Homo sapiens: one gene and its partners. The protein of the gene in region 2 interacts with the protein of the main gene of each other region in a pairwise test. Each region holds a gene or a part of one and is shown on either strand. Other genes may lie near its edges.

Region 1 (7,019 bases), on a different chromosome or scaffold from region 2:
GGATGTGGAACGTGATGGGTTCCAGGCTCACCTGTGGGGTTGTGCCGGACCACAAAGAGGAAGGGTCTGTCCATGATGATCTCCTCGGGGGCCATGCGGGCTGAGACTATGACAGCTGCAAGAGAAGGGACAATGTCTTAGAACAGAGGGATGCTGGCACTGGCACCACCCCCACCCCCGCCGTTTTTCTTAGAGACAGGGTCTCCCTCTGTCGCCCAGGTGGGAGTGCAGTGGCACCTTCATGGCTCACTGCAGCCTTGAACTCATGGGCTCAAGTGATCCTCCCACCTCAGTCTCCCAAGTAACTGGGGCTACAGGTGCATGCCACCATGCCTGGCTAATTTTTTTCTAATTTTTGTAGAGACACAGTCTCATTATATTGCCCAGGCTGGTCTCAAATTCCTGGGCTCAAGCGATCCTCCTGCCTCGGCCTCCCAAAGTGCTGGGATTACAGGTGTGAGCCACTAAGCCCAGCTGGAAGTTGTTTGTTTTCCTGAATATGAACCTTAAAAGTTTAGGGACATCCTCTGAGACCTGGTTTCCTCCAGGAGCTTGGTAGCAATGGATCAGCTCTTCCCTTACACACATTTATCTAAATCCTTTAAGGGCTTATTGATAAGCTCTTTCTTTTCTTTTCTTCTCTTTCTTTCTCTTTCTTTCTTTCTTTCTTTCTTTCTTTCTTTCTTTCTTTCTTTCTTTCTTTCTTTCTTTTCTCTCTCTCTCTCTTTCTTTCTTTCTTTTCTTCAGAGTCATGCTCTATTGCCCAGGCTGGAGTGCAGCAGCGTGATCTCGGCTCACTGCAACCTCTGCCTCCTGGATTCAAGTGATTCTCCTGCCTCAGCCTCCCAAGTAGCTGGGACTACAGGCACATGCCACCACGCCTGCCTAATTTTTGTATTTTTAGTAGAGATAGGGTTTTGCCATGTTGCCCAGGCTGGTCTCGAATTCCTGACCTCAAGTGATCCACCTGCCTTGGTCCCCCAAAGCGCTGGGATTACAGGTGGGAGCCACCATGCCCAGCCTGATAAGCATGTTTCTTAAGTTTACTTCCCACTGTGGGAACAACTTGGGTTTTTCTTTAGGAGGCCTTTTCACAGTCAGGGAACTTAGGAGCCATCAGGCGAGGAAACAGGGTTCCATGGTCCCAAGCCCGTTTTCCAGGCTGAGAAACAGGTGGGGAGTGGGTGATGGCTGAGCACAGACAGAGCTGCTCTGTGCCGAGAGGGCTGCGGGGTCCTTTCCGGGTCTGGGGACCAGTTATCCTGAAGGGCGATGGAGGCGACACCCGTGGAGCCTCACCTGAGCCAGACTCACCTGTGGATGAGGAGGCCACCGTGCCACTCTCGTTCACCTCGATCTTCACTTTCTGCAGCGCCTGCGCGACGTGGAGAGGCTCTTGGTCTGAAACAGATGTGGATACAGGATTAGATCAGCTGCCGCTCTCAAGGAGAGGTTCCTTTTTCCTCTTAGGGGCCCCCGCAGTCCACTGGGGTGAGAAAATGCAAAGGAAAGTCTTCTTACCTGAAAGACTCGTGAAGTCAGCCTGAAACTGTCTGAACATGTCGGTCATTCCCAGGTTCTCTAGGGGCTTCCTGAGGTCGACTTCAGTCTCCAGGGAGAACCTGCAGATAGCAGCAAGAGGCTGCTCAAGCCGGGGTCCCCTCTGGCTGGCAGCTCCCACCTTTCCCCATCCCCTACCAGGTGTCCCCCGAATCAAGTGGCCAGAATAGGGACGGAGGTGAAGGTTGGAGAGGGAGGCCTGGTTCGTTCGTTCTTTCTTTCCTTTCTTTTTCTTTCTTTCTTTCTTTCTTTCTTTCTTTCTTTCTTTCTTTCTTTCTTTCTTTCTTTCTTTCTCTCTCTCTCTTTCTTTCTCTCTCTCTTCTTTCCTTTCCTTTCCTTCCTTCCTTCCTATTTTTCTTTTTTTTTTTTTGAAACAGATTCTTGCTCTGTCCCCCAGGCTGGAGTGCAGTGGCGTGATCTCGGCTCACTGCAGCCTCCACCTCCCAGGTTCATGTGATTCTCTGGCCTCAGCCTCCGGAGTAGCTGGGATCATAGGCGCTCGCTACCACGGCTGGCTAATTTTTGTATTTTTAATAGAGACAGGGTTTCACCATGTTGGCCAGGCTGGTCTCAAACTCCTGACCTCAAGTGATCCGCCCGCCTTGGCCTCCCCAAATGCTGAGATTACAGGCATGAGCCACCACACCCAGCCGGCCTGGTTCTTCTTCTAAAGCTGTTTACAAAGTCCCCCCTTAGAGCTGAAAATCCTAATATTCATGAACATTCTTCTGCAATCTCCCCACCCCCTCCCACCTATGACTAATTACTTTCCTCAAATAAGACAGTAGTTTCAGCATAATTTTATTCAGCCTGGCTGGGGTGGGGGAAGCTAAGGGCAAATTCTCCTGCAAGGATGTTGGAACAAAAATCTGTTCTGCAGATTGTGTTTCTGAGAGCTAACCCTGAAGAGGACTCAAGCAGGGGGCCTTTGTGCACTCTCTGCTTCTCACCAGGGCACAACTAATTACCTCCATTTTTATGAGCCAGAGAGAGAGGAGAAAAAAAAAAAAGAGGAAGAGAGAGGATGCAAGTGAGAGCACGCACCAGCTAACCAACTAAATTCTCCTCTTTCCCCAAGCCTGGCATTATAGCATCCGGAAATTTGGGATGAGCGTGGTGGGAGGCTTCCCTATAATTCTGGAGTTCCCCAGCTCCAGCCTTCTCCTTCTGCAGAAAGATTTCAAAAAATCTCTTTGCTTCCTTCTGCAGAAGGATTTCGAAAAATCTGCTTTCTTGGAACCCCAGCTAGAAGCTGCGCTTTGAGCTGCTCCGTCCTTGGAAGTGATTTCTTTTGTTTGGATGTTGACTTGAAAGGGTTGGGGATGGAAGTGCTGATGGGGCGACCCTAAGTAGATGTGGACTGATTGGGCCCCCACCTCCCTCATTTCTCTGACTCTCCTTTTGGGGGCTTTTGCTGGGTATTCTGGGGATAGTCAATGTGGGGGTGTGGTCAGGAAGAGCTGTCCCCTGCCCTCCAGCAGAAACAGGGGGAGGGATGATTGCAAGACTCATAATCAAACCCAGGCCACAGTTTCCCATCAGCCTCCCACACATGCATGTCCTGCAAGCATCACAGATCTGGGAAATTCAACCTGGGGGCGGTGACTTTAGGGAGCCAGGAGAGAGGGGTTGGTAGGTCGGGGAGATAGCGGGGTGGCTTACTTGGGCAGAACCAGGAGGCGGGGCAGCCTGGTCATGTTGCCTTTCCAGTGGCTGATGAGCTGGGCACTCAGAATGTTGGTGAGGGCAGAGAGAGGCACCTCTTTTTCATAAGGGGCAGCAATGAACATGCTGAGGGTGTCCCCGTGGTAGGGCAGTTCCAGGATGTCGTAGTAATGGCCATCGGGCGTGGTGAACTCAGCTGTGAAGACGACAAGATGGTTCGTTGGAAATGGCTCCAGCTCTCGCTGATGGCAACCCAGCACTGGGTTTTCACCTAGTTCTCCTGGCTTCTCCACTATTTCTGGAAGCCAGGCTCTCTCTCGCTCTTGGCTTTTGGGTATCCCCTGTTCACTGCTCCCCTATTCAGTATTTTAATTTCTATTTCCCTTCTCTTCTGCCAATTCAGTATCTTCTAATTTCTCTCTCTCTGTGTGTGTGCATGTGTGTGTGTGTGTGTGTGTGTGTAAGAGACAGGGTCTCACTGTCACACAGACTGGAGCGCAGTGGTGCAATCATAGCTCACTGCAGCCTCCGAATCCGGTTCAAATGTTCCTCCCGCCTCAGCTTCTGTATTTTGTTTGTTTGTTTGTTTGTTTGTTTTGAGAAGGAGTCTCACTCTGTCGCCCAGGCTGGAGTGCAATGGCATGATCTCGGCTCACTGCAACCTCCCCCTCCCGGGTTCAATAGATTCTCCCACCTCAGCCTCCTGAGTAGCTGGAATTACAGGCACCTGCTATCATGCCCAGCTAATTTTTGTATTTTTATACAGATGGGGTTTCACCATGTTGGCCAGGCTGGTCTTGAACTCCTGACCTCAGGTCATCCACCCGCCTTGACCTCCCAAAGTGCTGGGAATACAGGCGTGAGCCACCGTGCCTGGCCTCACCTCAGCTTCTTGAGTAGACTACAGATGCATGTCACCAAGCCTGGCTAATTAAAAAAAATTTTTTTTTTGTAGAGGCAGGGTCTTGCTATGCTGCCCAGACTGGTATTCAACTTCTGGCCTCAAGCAATCCCCCTTCTCAGCCTCCCAAAGTGCTGGGATTATAGGCGTGAGTCGCCGCGCCAGGCCTTCTCTGTCTCTTTTGGCCTTCCTTCACTTCCATTTTCCCCACACCCAGCCACCAGTTCATCCCAGTCCTCATCCTTTTTTTTTTTTTTTTTTTTTTGAATGGAATTTCACTCTTTTGCCCAGGCTGGGGTGAAGTGGCTCAATTTCGTTCGGCTCACTGCAACCTCCACCTCCCGGGCTCAAGTGATTCTCCTGCCTCAGCCTCCCGAGTAGCTGGGATTACAGGCGCCTGCCACCACACCTGGCTAATTTTTGCATTTTTAGTAGAGACAGGGTTTCACCATGTTGGCCAGGCTGGTCTCAAACTCCTGACCTCAAACTCCTGATCCACCTGCCTTGGCCTCCCAAAGTGCTGGGATTACAGGCGTGAGCCACAGCACCTGGAGTCCTCATCCTCTTAACCTCAACTCCCCCAGCAGGATTTCTCATCCCCAGGTAATCACACTAGCAACACACGAAGATGAGACCCTGGAGTCAGGTGGACAAATGTGGCCCTGAGGGAATCTCTGGATTTCAGCTTCTTCATCCTTCATGGGATAAACCTCCTGTCTTCTGTTCCCATTATCCTGATGTCTCCTGCTTGGGAAATCTTTGTCAAAGCTGGAGTATATTCTAGGGTCTCTCCTCCCTTAAAGGGGAGCATTCCCTGTGGTCTTCCTCCCTCAGAGGGTGACATTTTGGGTATTCCTTGGGAGACCCCAGGAATGAGATGCAGTTGCTGTGGGCTGTGGGGAAGGGGCTCTTGGACTTACTATAGTTGAACTTGTTGGTCTGAGCCATCATGGGCACAGAGACAGTGCTGCCGTCTGATTTGTGGAAGAGGCGGCGGTGGGTGCTGGAGTCGGGGAAGGGAGTCTTCCACTGGCCGTTGAAGTAGAGGGCATTCACCAGCACCAGCCGTGTCAGCTGGTCCACGGCTCCTTTCCCAAGCAAGTTGCTGATCATACCTATGGGAAAATCAATGATCAGGAAGATCAGGAAGTTAGACGATTTTGTTGTTGTTGTTGTTGTTGTTTTGAGATGGAGTCTCACTCTATTGCCAGGCTGGAGTGCAGTGGCGCGATCTCGGCTCGCTGCAACCTCTGTCTCCGGGGTTCAAGCAATTCTCCTGCCTCAGCCTCCCGAATAGCTGGGATTACAGGCGCCTGCCACCATGCCTGGCTAATTTTTGTATTTTTAGTAGAGACGGGGTTTCACCATGTTGGTCAGGCTCGTCTCAAACTCCTGACCTTTTGATCCACCTGCCTTAGCCTCCCAAAGTGCTGGGATTACAGGTGTGAGCCACCATGCCCGGCTGAAGTTAGACAAAGTTTTTAAGCCTTTTAGATGTTTCCCGGAGTCCCCAGTCCTCAATTGGATGTATGTCAAAGGGCTGCAGTCAGGGGTTTAAATGAACCCGTCTAGTTCCTTTTTTTGGAGACAAAGTCTTGCTCTGTCACCCAGGCTGGAGTGCAGTGGCATGATCTCAGCTCACTGCAGCCTCTGCCTCCCGGGTTCAAGTGATTCTTTGAACCTCATCCTCCCGAGCAGCTGGGATTATAGGCATGCGCCAACACACCTGGCTAATTTTTTGTATTTTTGACAGAGACAGGGTTTCACCATGTTGGCCAGGCTGGTCTCGAACTCCTGTGCTCAGGCAATCTGCCCGCCTTGGCCTCTCAAAGTGCTAGGATTAGAGGCGTGAGCCACCGTGCCCAGCCTAAGATTTGGTTCTTAAAGCATCCAGCCCTTTGTCCATAGAGAAGAGAATGCTGAAAAGGAGCATTTTTTAGGATATGTGGATTTGGTTTTTGTTTGTTTTTTAGAGATGAGGTCTTGTTCTGTGACCCAGGCTGGAGTGTGGTGGTGCAAACATAGCTCACTGCAGCCTTGAACTGCTGGACTCAAGTGATCCTCCCACCTCAGCCTCCCAAGTAGCTGGGACTACAGGTGTGCACCACCATGCCCGGCTGGTTTTTAAATTTTTTGAAGAGATGAGGTCTTGTTATGTTGGCCAGGCTGGTCTCAAACTCCAGGCCTCAAGCCTTCCTCTCGCCTAGACCTCCCAAAGTGTTGGGCTGGGATTACAGGTGTGAACTACTGCACCCAACTGGGATATGTGGATTTATTTCCAAATTCCCTTTCTCTTGAGGCCCAGGAAATGGGTTTCCTTTCCCTGCCTGCTCACCTTTTGTGTGTGTCTTCACCCAGTCATTGATGATGAATCTGGCTCTCTCCACCTCTGAAAAGTCCACTTGCTTGACCGTGCTCCGGAACAGCCTGAAGAAGTGGGGCATGAAGCCCTGGACCAGCTTCAGATCCCGCTGGACGAAGATCGCGTCTGTGGTGCTGATCTCATCCTTGTTCCATGGCCCCATGAGCTCCTTGTACAGATGCCGGAGGGCGGGGGCCATGCCCTTGTCTGCACCGGGACAGAGAGGAGAGGACATGTGAGGCTTATGCTGAATTGAGGGTTCCCAGCCGAGCCCACTTCCCCCACAAGGGGCTCCACTCTGATGGATGGGGGCTACCGTGCTTTCCCAGGGCTCTCTGGAGGGAGATTTCATTCCAGGATGAAATCTCTTTTCTGTATCTCCTTCCTTTCTTCAAAAGTCTCAGATCCCAACCCTTTCTTTGGGCTAGAATATTTTTCTCTGTTCTTAAATTATGAACCCTAAATATTTTCTTCCTGTTTTTTTTTTTTTTTTTTTTTTGAGTTGGAGTTTTGCTCTTGTCTCCCAGGCTG
Region 2 (7,194 bases):
GCCCGGGAGCCCTCTGCGCGGGTGCCCTTAGGCGCGCACCCCTTGCTCACCCGCACGCGCGGCTCGGTGAGGTTGGTCCACACGGCGATCTCCTCCCTCATGCTCATGTCGGGGTAGCGGTTCCTCTGGAACGTGGCCTCTAGCTCTTGCAACTGCTGGCTTGTGAAGTGCGTACGTTGCCGCCGCTGCTTCTTCTTCTTGGCTGGGTCGTCTGCGCCGCCGCAGCCCGTGCCTCCCGCACCACTGTCCTCGGGCCCCTTGGGTTCCCCGCCGCGCTCCTTCTCTGCAGTAGGCAGGACGGGGAGCGGGTCACCTGGGCTTACGCCCCGTTGCACCCCGTCCCGGCTCCACCGAACCGCTCGCCACCAGCGCTGGCGGTCTTCCCTCCCTCCCTCCCTCTAGGGTTCCTGGGAACTGTCCCCACTGGAAAGCGCCCGCCGGGTGCTGGTCGTCAGTAGGCACCTCTAGTCTGGTGTGCCGCGGAGAAGAGCCCAAGAATCGGAGCTGGAGCCGCGGGCCTGCGTTCCTGGCTGGGCAGGGCCTGCACCCTTAGCTCGGCTCAGATTCTGACCCTGCTGCTGATGTTCCCAGCAAATGTATGCTTTTTGTTTGTTTGTTTTGCGAACTCTTAGGGGGTCTAAATCTGAGGGGGTCTCTGCTTTTCTGAACTAGGATCAGATCTCTCCAGCCTAAAGTCCCTCCACTTTCTTCTCCTCAGGGGTGTATGGGAGCCCCACTGGGCAGGCACAACACAGCCGGGTTCTCGGCCTTGCTTCCAGGCCTCCAGTCCCAAAGCCTAGAAAACCCCACCAACTGCAGCCCAGACAGACAGACTCTGTCTAGGTGACCTCGGGCTTTAGTCTGTCTCTCTTTGAAGCTACACAAAACACACGCAGTCATAGAAACATTAATACATAAAGAAAAAGAGTTTAAAAACAAAACACAGAAGCCCAGAAAAGCTCACAGCTCTATGCCTAAAGACACTGAAAGGGCCACAAATTCTCAAAATCAGACAGGAAGAAACACAGAGCAAATGTAAATTAAGAAGCCAGAAAGCTCCGTACAAACACACCCCTAACTAAATACAGAGCTGTAAGTGTATAAACTCCAGGTTGACAGAAGCATTTATTTCTCTGGGATTTAAAAAAATAATGTACCGTTGTAGATAGATTTTTAACTCCTTCCCAATAAGGCCCTTGTAGAGATAATTTTTAAATCCCAGAGAAACACATTATAGTTAGATAATTTAAATTCCCCAAATAACACCACTGTAAATGGATTTTGAGAAAATTCCGGAGAAACGCGCCATTTTGGATTGACTTTTTAAAATCTCCGGAAGAATAATGTTGCATGTAGATATTTTAAATTCCAGACCTACACTTCGTACGTTAATTCTTTCAGAATCGAAAGATACAGTTAAAATTAATTCATCCTCATAGATTTGGTTCAAAAAAATCAATATACGATTATATATCTCTCTAGGTTTTAAAAATAAAACCAACCAAAGACCGCGCTTAAAACTTTTGAAAACAAAAGTAGAGTTCAGCGTTGATTATGTTTTAACCAAGCAAACAACCTCTCAGAAAAATCACTTAGGGATGCAAAAGAGAAACAGATACTAAGAAAGTGGAGAGAAACATTCAGCTGTGTATTAAGAAATGAACGCAGAAGAGGCGCCCACACCGGGGAGCTCGGAGCCCCTCCGGAACCCGGCCGGCTGCGCTGGGCAGCGGATTCGCTGCCCCACTGCCCGCGCCGGCCACCCGCGGGCCCAGTTCGCTGCTGGAAAAAAGCTCCAGCTCGGACAAAAAAAGGCAGCGCGGAGGGAGACGCGCAGGAGCCGGGGCGGGGGCCAGAGCCGGGCTGCTCCGGGCTTCGGCCGCGCACGTGGGCCGGATCCCTTGATCGGCGTTCCGGCTGGCCTTGCTGGGAGTCCGGCCGCGCCTGTTGGCCCGCTCGCCCTCACCGTCCTCTGTGTCTCCCTTCTACTTGATGACCCCTCTCCCCCCGTTTACCCTTCCCGCCCGCCCCTTCTCTTTGGTCTCTTTCATTCTGTCGCCTACTGTCACGGTGTTAACCTCCCTCTCTGTCTCTCTGAGTGCGTTCTCTCGCCCGTCACCCCTCTTCCTTTCTCGGTCTCCTCCTCTCCCTTCGTCCGAGCCGCTCCTTAGCGCCCAGTTGCGCAAATCAAATTCTTTCCCGTTCTATTTACTCCTGATCAAGAGGGGCTGTCAGTCCAACCCTCCAGCTGTAGGCTCGTGCATCTGCCAGTCTCTTGGCGCGTGGGGACCGCGTGGAAGTGCCTTCGCGTGTGCGTAAGTTTCCGCGTTCACCGTCAGGTCGAGAACGGGAAAAAGAAAGCTCCTGACGCTTCTGGGGCGGAGAGGGAGCTTGGTTGCGCGGCGCGGGCGTCAGGCCCTGCTCCCAGCTCCCCGTGCTCCGCGCCCGGGTAGGCTCTGTGCGCGCCGCGCGGGGAACGGCGCTTACCTGGCAGCTCCGTGTCAGACGACTCGCTGGCGGAGTTCTCGAGCGGCTCGCGGGGGTCGGCGGGCCGGGCCAGGTGGAAGGCGGGCCCCATGTCATGGGGTGGCGGCGGCGGCGGCCGGAGCCCCTCCGGCAGCCGCTCCAGGCTCATGCCCCCCTTGAAGGCGTCCATGGAGGTGGGGACCGCGGCGGGCGCTCCAGGGGCCGGGGCTGGGCGCGCCCCGCCGCCCTGGCTGCGACCTGCGGGGACAAGAGCGCAGCGCCTAAGCGGCTGCCCTCCAGGGCTGCCGGCGCCTGCAGCGACGCCGTGCCCGCCCCATGGACCGCCCGGGGCTGCGGCGCCGGGCGGGCAGAGGCGGCGGCAGCTTCTCGCGACTGGGCGCCTGGCTCAGCGCTCCGCGCTGCGCTCCTGCCGCTCGGGCCTCAGCAGCCCGGCCGGCCCCGGCTCCGGCTCCGGCTCCGGCTCGCGATCCGGGGCCGGTTTCTAAGGCTCCGGACGGCGCCGGCAGAGTCTGTCTTAAAGCGACAGCGCGCACAGCCAGGTTCCAGCAGTCCCTGCGCCAGGGGTGCTGGGTGGGGTGGGCCTGGGTGGGAGGGGGCTGGGGAGGGAGCGAGCGAGCGAGGGAGCGCGGGCGGAATCCAGCCCCAAGCCGCCCGCGCCGCCGCGCCCTCACTGCCGCCCTCCCTCCCTCCCTGCCTCGCCCGCGCCCTCCCCCTCCGCAGCCACCTTCCCGCCGCCTCCCCGCCCCCCGCGGCCTCGCCGCGCCTCTCCCTCCTTCCCCGGTGACACACCGAGTTCTCCCTCGGCCTCACAAAAGAAACGCATCTGGCCTGCGAGTCCCGGGCGGCTCGTGCACACCTCAGGCCTCAAATGACTTGTTTCGCCTAGAATCAACTCCCGTCTCGGCCGCCTCGAAGTCCCCAGCCCTGGCGAGAACAGCCCAGGATGAGTGAATGTTTGCCGAACAGGATCGCACCGAGCGGGCGCCTTCGAGCCAGCGCCGGGGCGGGGGCAGAGCCCGGGGCCCGTTCCGGCAGCTCCCAGCGGTGTCCTCGTCGAGGGGCCGCCTGCCCCTCCTTCTCCAGCCTCTTCTCCCGGGAACTCAGCCCGGCTGAGTGACAGCAGCCTGCGCTCTAATGGGCCCCCGGATGCTGCCTCCTAATTAGCTTGGACCTTCTCCCCTACGGCTGCTTCTCAGGCCTCCCTCTCTGCACCGCAGTCAATTTTCCGGGATTGGGATAGAAATGATGGCTTCTAATCAGACGAAACGTTTCTGCTGGCTCTAGGCGTTTGGAGAATGCAGAAGGAAGACCCCAAGGATCCCAGCCAGACCCCACAGCCTCTTGTACCTCTCCCCTTGTTTTACACCTTAGGCCTTGGCCAAATGGGCCAGGCCTGGCCTTGGCAGGCATGGGGTTGGCCTTGGCAGCCTTTGCCCTCCTTCAGGGTAGCTTTGTCCCAGCCTGGGGCCTGCGTCCTGGCTTCCCAGGGCTTCAGGCATAGGCCTGGTAAGCCAGGTGACTGCTGTCTCCCAACCCTGGGCCAGCAGCCCAGGAAGCCCTCAGTCTTCCAGCTTCTCTCCCACACAGTGGTAGCTGAGCTGCAGCTCCAATGGGCCTTCACTGGGCACAGGCAAAGACATTACTCTCCCACTCCTAAGAGTGATTCCCTCCTCGAGTCCTTGCACGTAGGTGAAGTTTGTCGAAGGATTTTGCTCAACAATTGTTAGCTGGCCCCGAGACCTCAGCGTCTTGAGCAAACAGGCCACAGCTGGGGCGGCAAGGCGCCGCCCTGACCTGCTCCTCTGGCCATAGGCGGACCCCAGACTGCCCTCTGCCCCTCACCTGTGATCAGCTCCACCAGACACAGCAACCCAAGGGAGCTGCGCCAGGATTGTCTGCCTGGGAAAGAAGCAGGGAGGTGTCCAGTGTCCTCACCCCAAAACCCAGTGCCTCCTCAACTCCTGGGTGGGTGGCACTGACTGTGCAGGTATCAGCGTCTGGGGCACTCTGCAGGTTCTGCCTTTGAGTCCTCGTCTTACCCCTTCCCATCACAGGGAGACACCCAGGGTCAGCTGAGCTCCTTGTGGGGGCTGCTGGGGCCAGGGTCGGGCATGCAGGGTGGAACCAGGCCTGCCTTCCATTCCCTCCACGTTAGTCCAAAGCACCCCCACCCCTACCCCCATCCCCATCCCCATCCCCATCCCCATCCCCATCCCCATCCCCCGCTCTGGGCCGTGGAGAGACAGCACAGCTCCTTAGGGCCTGGTCCTTTCTCACTGTGGGTCTGTGACCACAGGATGCAGGGTCTGAGGCCAGAGGGAGGACACTTCTCAGGGGTTTGGATTGGGGAGGCTCAGTGACTCCTGCCTTCTTCCAAGCTGAGATCTCCCTCCATGAAATGAGTCTTGGCTACGGGGAGGGGAACATGGGGAAGCACAGTTGCCCAGCATTTGCCCTCAGCCCCACCGTTGCCATGTTTCTTGGCCACCTTTACCACGAGTCTCCTGCAGTAGAAGATCCCTCCTTTCAAGGAGATATTCAGGTGTTGCAGCGTGCTAGGGAGTGTCCCTTCACAGACCATTCTTTTTTTAGCTGTCTTACCAAAAAGAACAGCCTGAATGCAGACAGCATGGGGGCACGCACACACACACACATCCTGTACATCCATGCGGAGATGCTGTACACACACATGTATTCACTGCACTATGGAAGTGCTGAGTTTAGGCATATATGTGCTACTTGGCATGAACGCGGGCTGGCAGGGGATAGGAGGTGTGTTCTAACCCTGCCACATGTCAGGCCAAGGTGGGAAGCACAGTGCGTCTCTGGGTAGAGACTTAGAAATGAATGGTCTGTCTGTGGGCCTCTAGAGGAGGTTAAGACTCACAGCCTTCTCACTTGCCTTCTCACTTCCCAGAGGGACCAAAGTGACTCTTTGGGCCATCCCCCAATGGGGACTATTCTGTGAGCAGCACTCACTGCTTAGTCTGAGGGGCGTGTTTCCTCACTGTTAGTGCATTTAATGCAGTTATTGAGCACCTGCTGTGTGCCCCTCTGGGCCCAAACCTCTGGCAGGGCTCCAGGCAGGCACAATAGTCCCTTTATTTGGTGATCTTGATGCCTGCTGTGTAGAAGGAAAAGCCCTCAGACCATTTCAGGTGAAGCCCCATATCCTCAGGGGACCTGAGACCCAAAGAGGAGCTGGGGCTAGTGGGGCCTGCTGGCAGAGTCTGTTCTGCTGGGCCTGGGCAGCACTGAGTGATCAAGGAGTGAGGAGGCAATTGATTGTGAGGAGGCTGTGGCCTGATCTTGGGCGTTGGCTGGGGAAGGGACCTGGACATGCTCTCAATTCTTCCCCAGCTACACTCACTGGCCATTGTCCCAGTCAAGATAGGGGCTTCTTGCACGCTCACAGACACGTCACACATACAGGACAGAAAACAGCACTCTTTCAGGAGTAAGCAGAGGCTTTGTGTTCCCCCAGCTGTGCTATGTGACCTGTGTTTCCCTCAAGGTTAAGGCTTGATCTGCACTGTGCCTCAGTTCCCATGTCCAACACCGGACTCTGCCTGCTGCTTCAGCATCCAGCTCACTTGCTGATGGGACACGAAGAGAGGAGGGAAGGGGGCTTAGTGGAGCTGGAACCATGTGCCCTGTTCCCCACCCCTCCGTGACCACACAAAGCCAGCAATGATTCTCTGATTTTCAAGAATTTTGGAGTTTAGGGTCTTGGCTGGGCTGAGCAGAAGAGCTTGGGCTGTTGTGGGGTTGAAGTAGTCACCATGAGGACCCTTCCTGAAGCCTGGCTCACTAAAAACACCCTGTGCCCAAGAATGGTTTAGTAATGTAATTTGGGAAGGGTGGTTGGAAGGCTCTCAGTGGGGGGGCATCCTTCTACCCACCCACGGGGGCACCGTGCCCTAATCCTTGCTCCCAGAATCAAGGTATTTTAGGAAAAAGGAAGGAATGTGCCATGGCCTGCCACCAGGGCTATCCATGACTCTCTGGGACATTCCAGCCCTAAGCCTCTTAGTCCGTGGAGAAGTTCAAACTTGAAAACCCTGTTTTGGGAGTGCAGGTTTGGACCACCTACCTCTTTCTGCCTGATCTAACACCCCCTCCCCAATAAAAGCTCCCGTTTCTTTGAATACAGCAATTACTGGGTAAGTGGGGAGGAGGGTGCTCAGGTAGGGGCTGGAAAGACCTCACTGGCTCCTTTAGGCTTCCTGGGACCCCAGTCTGAGGCTTCCTGCCAAATGGGGATCCCCAGCCTGTCCCGGGGAGAGCCAGGATGTATTTGAGCAGGACTGCCGCCAGTGAGGCACAGATGGGAGTATGGAACTCAGGACTCTGTGCCGTGGGCCGCTCAGTCAGCGGCTGGTAGGACCCATGGCTCTACCCGGCCCATCTCTCACCTAAGTCCATGGACGCTGTCTGGTTCCTGAGAATGGCTGAGCTGTGGGGAAGAAGACTAGGAAGGAGGTAGCAGCTGGTCGCACAACTGGGGAGCAGAGGGGCAACTTATGGATGCACCATAGCCTCCTCCTCCCAGCGGCTGCTTTCATGGGAGAAGAGCACCCTGAGCCTGTCTGGAGGCCTCTGCATCCTAGAGTCCAGACAGCCTGGTCTCCAAGCCCCAGCCCACCTCTTTTCCTTTCCCTGGAAGAGATGCGGGAGGCCGAAAGCAGCCCCGGGAAAGGGCACGGG
Region 3 (7,005 bases), on a different chromosome or scaffold from region 2:
GCTCGTTCTCCAGTGATTAGAACTGCAGTGATTTCCTTTTGTGCCATTCCCATCCCCTTCCTGCACTGTCCTACAGCTCTGGGGCACTTCCTGCCATGGTCCTAAGGGTACAGCCCCAAGTATGGACCATTTATAATTATGCAAAAGGGACACTGGCCCTATGAGAACCCCACAGCCTATACATTCCCATCTGGAGATCACGCAGTTATTATATCTTATTCCCAATTGGTTCTCATCATGGAATCTCCCTCTGGCTACCAAGGTGACTCATTTTTGCAAAGTAACCTTAGGTAGGGTACCTCATTAGAAGCGTTGGAAAGTCTACTGGATTATACCTGTTGTTTCTCCCTTATCTGCACAAGCAATTATCCCTTAAAGAACTCAAGGGTCGGTCAGGTGCGGTGGCTCACGCCTGTAATCCCAGCACTTTGGGAGGCTGAGGTGGGCGGATCACCTGAGGTCAGGAGTTCGAGACCAGCCTGACCAACATGGAGAAACCTCGTCTCTACTAAAAATATAAAATTAGCCAGGCATGGCGGCGCATGCCTGTAATCCTAGCTACTCGGGAGGTTTAGGCAGGAGAATTGCTTGAACCCGGGAGGCAAAGACTGCAGTGAGCTGAGATCATGCCATAGCACTCCCACCTGGGCAACAAGAGCAAGACTCTGTCTCAAAACAAACAAACAAAAAACAAACAAAAAAAGAACTCAAGGGTCTGTGGAGTGCCTTTGTCTTCTAGAAACCAAGGTGCTTCCCAGGCCTCACCTCACTCTGAAATTCTTGCCACTTGGGATCTCTAGCTTCCAGACTGGTGACAGGAATGCACAGTGAGAAGGATATACTGGATTTCGGAATGGCAGGGGCATTTGGATTCTATTTTAGCAGGGCAGGCCACAGGATGTTAACATGTTAAAATCGTGCTTGCTCCAGGGCCTGGGCTCACACACTCATACACAGCAGCCACATGGGCCCGGCCCACACAGACTTAATCGTCCTTCACCCCAAATCCAGGCTGGCCTTAGATTTTTTTTCTGCCCATCTCAGGGCCACTTGTAATAATCAGCATTGCTCCTTAAGATGAAATCCTCGTTGTTATGCTTTTATAAGAGCACAGGGCCATCCTATTTCCAAATGGAGGAATGCTACAAATGCGGTCGGAGTCACAGTGGATTTGGATTGATGAGCTCAGGGTCTTGACCTTAATGTTAACTATCCTGCCTCATGGAAGCATCATCTTGGTTTACGAAGGTCCCAAGAGCCTCTAGTATTCCTGATACCTCAAAGTTGGTGTCTGTGCCACAGCCACAGGTCCAGCAGGGCCCCACCACTCGCAAGACTGTCTGGCGATCGGCATCCTGGATGGAGAACTTGGGGAGGAAGGGATGCCAGGTCTGTAGCACGTGGCCAATGGTGGTGCCTGGTGGAGCCTGTACTTCCATCTGGGAGTGGGAAGCAGACAGGGTCACTGCGGAGGCAGGGGTCCCAGCTCTATCATCTGTCTATTTGGCCCTCACTAAACCTCCCATCCCCACCTGCCCACTCCCACCTGATCCAGGCCTCATCTCAGGTGGACCTCATCATTGTCCCGCCCCACCAAGGCCCGCCCTCCCGGCCCCCTCCCTCCGCCCACCTCCTGGAGGCCACAGGGGCAGCAGCTGCAGCCACAGTGCAGCGGGCGGAGCAAACGCAGCACCTCACGGTCCCCGGGGTCGGCCAGGCGGACACGCAGCGGCCGGCGGGCGCCACAGCACAGACGGGCGCAGCAGTTGCTCTCCTCGGCCGCCTGACCCAGGGGCTGCCCGGCCCCAGAGCGCAGTTCATACCGATTACAGGTCTCCCAGCCTAGGAACGCTGCCCGAGGTGACACGGGGAGACTCGTAGAGCCTCGCGCGCCCAGGAGCCCACCATCCGGGCCACCATCATGAGGTCCAACCTCCCACTCCTTCTACTTACTTTCCACTCGCTCAGCCTTCTGGTGAATCAAAATCTGATCAATCTGGAAAGAGAGGGGCGGCGCGCACATCAGCTGGCCCATCTGGACGCCCAAGTCCCCTCCCAGTCATCCTCCCTCCCTCCTTCCCACTCACCTGCACCAGGAATTCGAGGCCAGAAGGCACCCCTGGCAGTGGCAAGAAGGGGGCAGCAGACCCCAAGGCCACGGGGCCAGGCGAGGGGAAGAGGGCGAAGCCGGGAGCTGGGGCAGGTACCTGGGCGGGCACTGGCGCCTGCCCGGGCCCAGGATGTAGCGCCGGCTCCGGGTACCCAGGGGTGACAGGGTAGGGAGGTGGGGGCGAAGGGGCGTAGCCTTTGGGGGGCAAGTAGCCTGTAAAGCGGTGGGAGCAGGATAGATTAGAAAGGGACTCAAGGCCTCATCCCCTTATTCCTCAGCCCATGGGCCGCGAGGCTTCGGGGGAAACGTGGTGGCAAGAGGCAGAGAAAGATGGGGCAGGGGAGCAGGGTGGAGGTTCCCCGGAAGGAAGGGAGGGGCCCCACCCAGCCAGTCCGAGCACATTCCGGGAGGATGTGTTCAAACCCGGCTCCCAAGTCCGTGGGGGGGATAACGGAGACCCCCAGACTTGCGCGCACTTACCTGCCATGGGAGAAGGGCTGGGGTTTTCGAGATGATGGTGTCTGGGTGGCTTAGTTCTGGAAGCGGAGGCAAACTCGGAGATAGCCAGACAGACACAGAGACAGACACAAAGACGGAGAGGCAGCTGCGCCCGGCGCCGGCCCAGGGTCTCTTGGGCGGCGCCTCTGACTCGGGGAGAAACCCAAGTGTCAGTGGGCGGGACCGGGTACCTGGGACCCTGGATTCCCTCGGGGGCCCCAGAACCGCCCCCTCCCTTTGTTCTCCCATCCTGCGGAGGAGGCTGTGGGCCGACGGCAGGACAGATGGACCCGCGGTCAGACCGACAGCCCCACCCCAAGGGCGGTCTCCCTGACCCCTCTGTGCCCCCGCTCACCTGGAGCCCCCAGAAGAGCCCGGGTGCCTAGCACTCGGCAGCTCACAGGAGCTGGCGGAGGCGGAGGCGGGCCCGAGCTCGGACCCCGGCCCCGCCCCCCGACCCGCCGAGCCCGCCCCCTCCTGGGCGGTGCGTTTGCGCCGGGAGGAAGGCAGCCGTCCGCTGCCCCGGGAAGCCGATCGTGGGCTTTGCTCCTCGGCGTCGCCGACGTTCCCGCCCCTTCCGCTCGGACTGCAGATGCCCAGAGAGTAGGAGCGCCTGGAGAAGGCGGCGGCTGGTCCCGGGCCCCGCGAACGCCGCCAGGCCGGCGGCGTGCGTGCTCAGCGCCCTGGGTGGGAGGCGAGGGCGGCCCGGGCCGCGCTGGCCCCTGGGCTCCTCCTCCCAAGGGCAGTCGGGCCTCGCTGACGCAGCGGAACACCCTTCACACTCACTCATTGGCTTCCAGGACTGGCTCCTGGCTCGCCTTCTGCCTCCCAGGGGCGACCTCGCCGTCTTCTCTCCCTGGCACAGCGGTGACCCACACGGGCACCTCGCAGCGACAGCAGTTTCTGCAGGTGCCCCAGCCACGCGGGTGACAGGCCGCCAAACGGTGTCAGTGAGCGTGCTCAGGCCGCCTAGAGGGCCAGAGGAGGAAGCGCGGTCAGAAAAGACCCCCGAGATGAGTGTCTTCGACTGGATCCTGAGCCAGGACCAGTCCTGCCTTGGGGGCCACTGGCTGAGTGGCGCAAGAGATGAGTTTAGAAACGGAGTGCAGTCCACATACAGGGCGGGTTGTGTGGAAGCTGCGATTTGGCCCCACGAGCAGCGAGGAGTCCACCGAGACATTTTTAGAACAAAGAAGGTCAAATGTGTGTTTTAGAAAGATCGTGGCGGGGCGCGGTGGCTCACGCCTGTAATTCCAGCACTTTGGGAGGCCGAGGTGGGCGGATCACCTGAGGTCAGGAGTTTGAGACCAGCCTGGCCAACATGGCAAAAACCCATCTCTACTAAAAATACAAAAATTAGCCGGGTGTGGTGGCGGGCGCCTGTAGTCCCAGCTATGCAGGAGGCTGAGGTAGGAGAAACTCTTGAACCCGGGAGGCAGAGGTTGCAGTGAGCCGAGATTACGCCATTGCACTCCAGCCTGGGCAACAGAGCGAGACTCCATCTCAAAATAAATAAATAAATAAATAAATATTTATTTAGACATCACCAATAAGGCGAAGGCATCACCAATAAGGCGATAGTTAGGCCGGGCACGGTGGCTCACGCCTGTAATCCCAGCACTTTGGGAGGCCGAGGCAGGCGAATCATGAGGTCAGGAGATGGAGACCATCCTGGCCAATATGGTGAAACCCCGTCTCTACTAAAATACAAAAAAATTAGCCAGGTGTGGTGGCGGGCGCTTGTAGTCCCAGCTACTCGGGAGGCTGAGGCAGGGGAATCGCTTGAACCTGGGAGGCAGAGGTTGTAGTGAGCTGAGATCTTGCCACTGCACTCCAGCCTGGCGACAAAGCAAGACTCCGTCTCAAAAAAAAAAAAGAAAGAAAAGAAAGAAAGAAAGAAAGAAGATGATAGTTGACCCAGAACCTAAAGGAGATGAGGGACTGAGCTGTGCAGATTACTGGGTAAGTGTTTCAGGCAGAGGGAACAGCAAGGGCATAGGTCCTGAGGCAGAAGACCAGTGAGACTGGAATGGAGTTAATGAGGGGAAGGTCAGAGGGGTCACAAGAAGCCAGGTCACGCATGGCCTTTTAGTCCACTGAATTATACCCTGAGATGGGAAATGTTGGAGGGTCTGGACAGAGAAGAGACGTGAGACGTACTGCAGTGGTTCTCCATGTGGAGGTTCCCCCTGTGCCCTAGATGCCACCTGAGGTGAAGGATGGAAATGCAGTGAGAGCACTGGACTGGGAGGAAGGAGCCTACAGACCCAGCCTTGGCTCTGCCACTGGACCTTTGGGTCACTCTGGTTTTTCTGTTTTTTTGAGAGTCTCACTCTGCCACCCAGGCTGGAGTGCAGTGGCGCTATCTTGGCTCACTGCAACCTCCACCTCCCAGGCTCAAGCAATTCTTCTGCCTCAGCCTCCCAAGCAGCCAGGACTACAGCCACCACACCCGGCTAATTTTTGTATTTTTAGTAGAGACAGGGTTTCTGCATGTTGGCCAGGCCGGTCTGGAACTCTTGGCCTCAAGTGATCCTTACACCTTGGCCTCCCAAAGTGTTGGGATTACAGGCATGAGCTACTGCACCCAGCCCCTTTGGGCCACTCTGGAGGTCCCCTCTAAGGGTTTGTTTGTTTGTTTGTTTGTTTGTTTATTGAGACAGGGTCTTGCTCTGTTGCCCAGGCTGGAATACAGTGGCATGATCTCCACTCATTACAACTTCTGTTTCCCAGGATCAAGGCATCCTCCCACCTCAGCCTCCCGAGTACCTGGGACTACAGGCATGGGCCACCATGTCCAGCTAATTTTTGTATTTTTTGTAGAGATGGGGTTTTGCCATGTTGCCCAGGCTGGTCTTCAACTCCTGGGCTCCAACAGTACACCTGCCTCAGCCTCCGAAAGTGCTGAGATTACAGGTGTGGGCCATCACACCCAGCATATTTATTTATTTATTTATGAGACTGAGGTCTTGCTCCGTCACCCAGGAGGGAGTGCAGTGGCACCATCAGAGATCACTGCAGCCTCAAACTCCTAGGTTCGGCCGGGCACAGTGGCTCACATCTCTAATTCCAGTACTTCACATCTCTAATCCCACTCTGCCCAGGCAGGCAGAGCACTGAAGATCAGGAGTTTGAGACCAGCCCGGCCAACACAGTGAAACCCCGTCTCCACTAAAAATACAAAAAAATTGCCCAGGCGTGGTTGGCACATGCCTGTAATCCCAGCTACTCAGGAGGCTGAGGCATGAGAATCGCTTGAACCCGGGAGGCAGAGGCTGCAGCAAGCTGAGATTGCACCACTGCATTCCAGCCTGGGCAACAGAGCGAGACTACATCTCAAACAAAAACAAAACAAAATTCTTAGGCTCAAGCTATCCTCATGCCTGGGGATCCTCAAGCTGGGACTACAGGCACATACTACCACATTATTATTATTTTATTATTATTATTATTATTTTTGAGATGGAGTTTTGCTCTCGTTGCCCAGGCTGGAGTGCAATGGCCTCCCAGGTTTAAGCGATTCTCCTGCCTCAGCCTCCTGAGTAGCTGGGATTACAGGTGCCTGCCACCACACCTAGATAATTTTTGTATTTTTAGTAGAGACAGCGTTTCACCACTTTGGCCAGGCTGTTCTTGAACTCCTGACCTCAGGTCATCCACCTGCCTCGGCCTCCCAAAGTGCTGGGATATTTTTATTTTTTTAGAGACAGCATCTCACTATGTTGCCCAGGCTGCTCTTGAACGCCTGAGCTCTAGCTATTCTCCCACTGTAGCCTCCCAAGTAACTGGGTAGGGGGCTGAAGCAGGAGGATTGCTTGAGCCTAGCAGTTCGAGACTAGCCTAGGCAGCCGACATGGTGAGACCCCATCTCATCTCTTTCTTGAACCTCCTGGGTTCAAGCAATTCTCCTGCCTCAGCCTCCCGAGTAGCTGGGACTACAGGTGCGCACCACCATACCCTGATAATTTTTGTATTTTTAGTAGAGATTGGGTTTCACCATGCCGGACAGGCTGGTCTCGAACTCCTGAACTTGTGATCTGCCCGCCTCGGCCTCCCAAAGTGTTGGGATTACAGGCATGAGCCACCGCACCCGGCAAGACCCCATCTCTACAAAAAAGTAATAATTAGCTAGTCGTGGTAGCTTACACCTGTAGTCCCAGCTACTCGGGAGGCCGAGGTGAGAGAATTGCTTGACCCTGGGAGATGGAGACTGCAGCGAGTCCTTATGGCACCACTGCATTACAGCTGGGTGACAAAGCGAGACCCTGTCTCAAACAAAACGAAAAAGCACAGAGAGGCGGTGGAACAGCTGGAGGGTGGAGGGTGTGCCCCTTCAGATGTGGAAGGCCTCACCAAGGTGATCCTATTGAAGCTAAACTAAGCTTGCACAAAGTGTA

The links. The genes of interacting proteins can lie anywhere in the genome.
Region 1: the proteins of PITX1 (region 2) and SERPINE1 interact in binary tests that used the Homo sapiens proteins (3 or more experiments, as listed by UniProt).
Region 3: the proteins of PITX1 (region 2) and PLSCR3 interact in binary tests that used the Homo sapiens proteins (3 or more experiments, as listed by UniProt).

Annotation. Positions count from the first base shown.
Region 1 is NC_000007.14:101,130,097-101,137,115, reverse strand, and holds part of SERPINE1 (plasminogen activator inhibitor 1 isoform 2 precursor), read right to left. Parts: intron 6,696-7,019; coding exon 6,462-6,695; intron 5,242-6,461; coding exon 5,047-5,241; intron 3,422-5,046; coding exon 3,223-3,421; intron 1,623-3,222; coding exon 1,522-1,622; intron 1,402-1,521; coding exon 1,315-1,401; coding exon of another isoform or gene 1,300-1,314; intron 137-1,299; coding exon of another isoform or gene 116-136; coding exon 32-115; intron 1-31. UniProt on the Homo sapiens protein: Serine protease inhibitor. Inhibits TMPRSS7. Is a primary inhibitor of tissue-type plasminogen activator (PLAT) and urokinase-type plasminogen activator (PLAU).
Region 2 is NC_000005.10:135,031,226-135,038,419, forward strand, and holds the start of PITX1 (pituitary homeobox 1), read right to left. Parts: upstream 3,004-7,194; 5' UTR 2,725-3,003; coding exon of another isoform or gene 2,657-2,724; coding exon 2,488-2,656; intron 2,316-2,487; exon of another isoform or gene 2,049-2,315; intron 284-2,048; coding exon 51-283; intron 1-50. UniProt on the Homo sapiens protein: Sequence-specific transcription factor that binds gene promoters and activates their transcription. May play a role in the development of anterior structures, and in particular, the brain and facies and in specifying the identity or structure of hindlimb.
Region 3 is NC_000017.11:7,391,514-7,398,518, forward strand, and holds the start of PLSCR3 (phospholipid scramblase 3), read right to left. Parts: upstream 3,013-7,005; 5' UTR 2,964-3,012; intron 2,759-2,963; exon of another isoform or gene 2,755-2,758; 5' UTR 2,598-2,754; coding exon 2,591-2,597; intron 2,324-2,590; coding exon 2,088-2,323; intron 1,997-2,087; coding exon 1,954-1,996; intron 1,852-1,953; coding exon 1,631-1,851; intron 1,466-1,630; coding exon of another isoform or gene 1,440-1,465; coding exon 1,278-1,439; intron 1-1,277. UniProt on the Homo sapiens protein: Catalyzes calcium-induced ATP-independent rapid bidirectional and non-specific movement of the phospholipids (lipid scrambling or lipid flip-flop) between the inner and outer membrane of the mitochondria.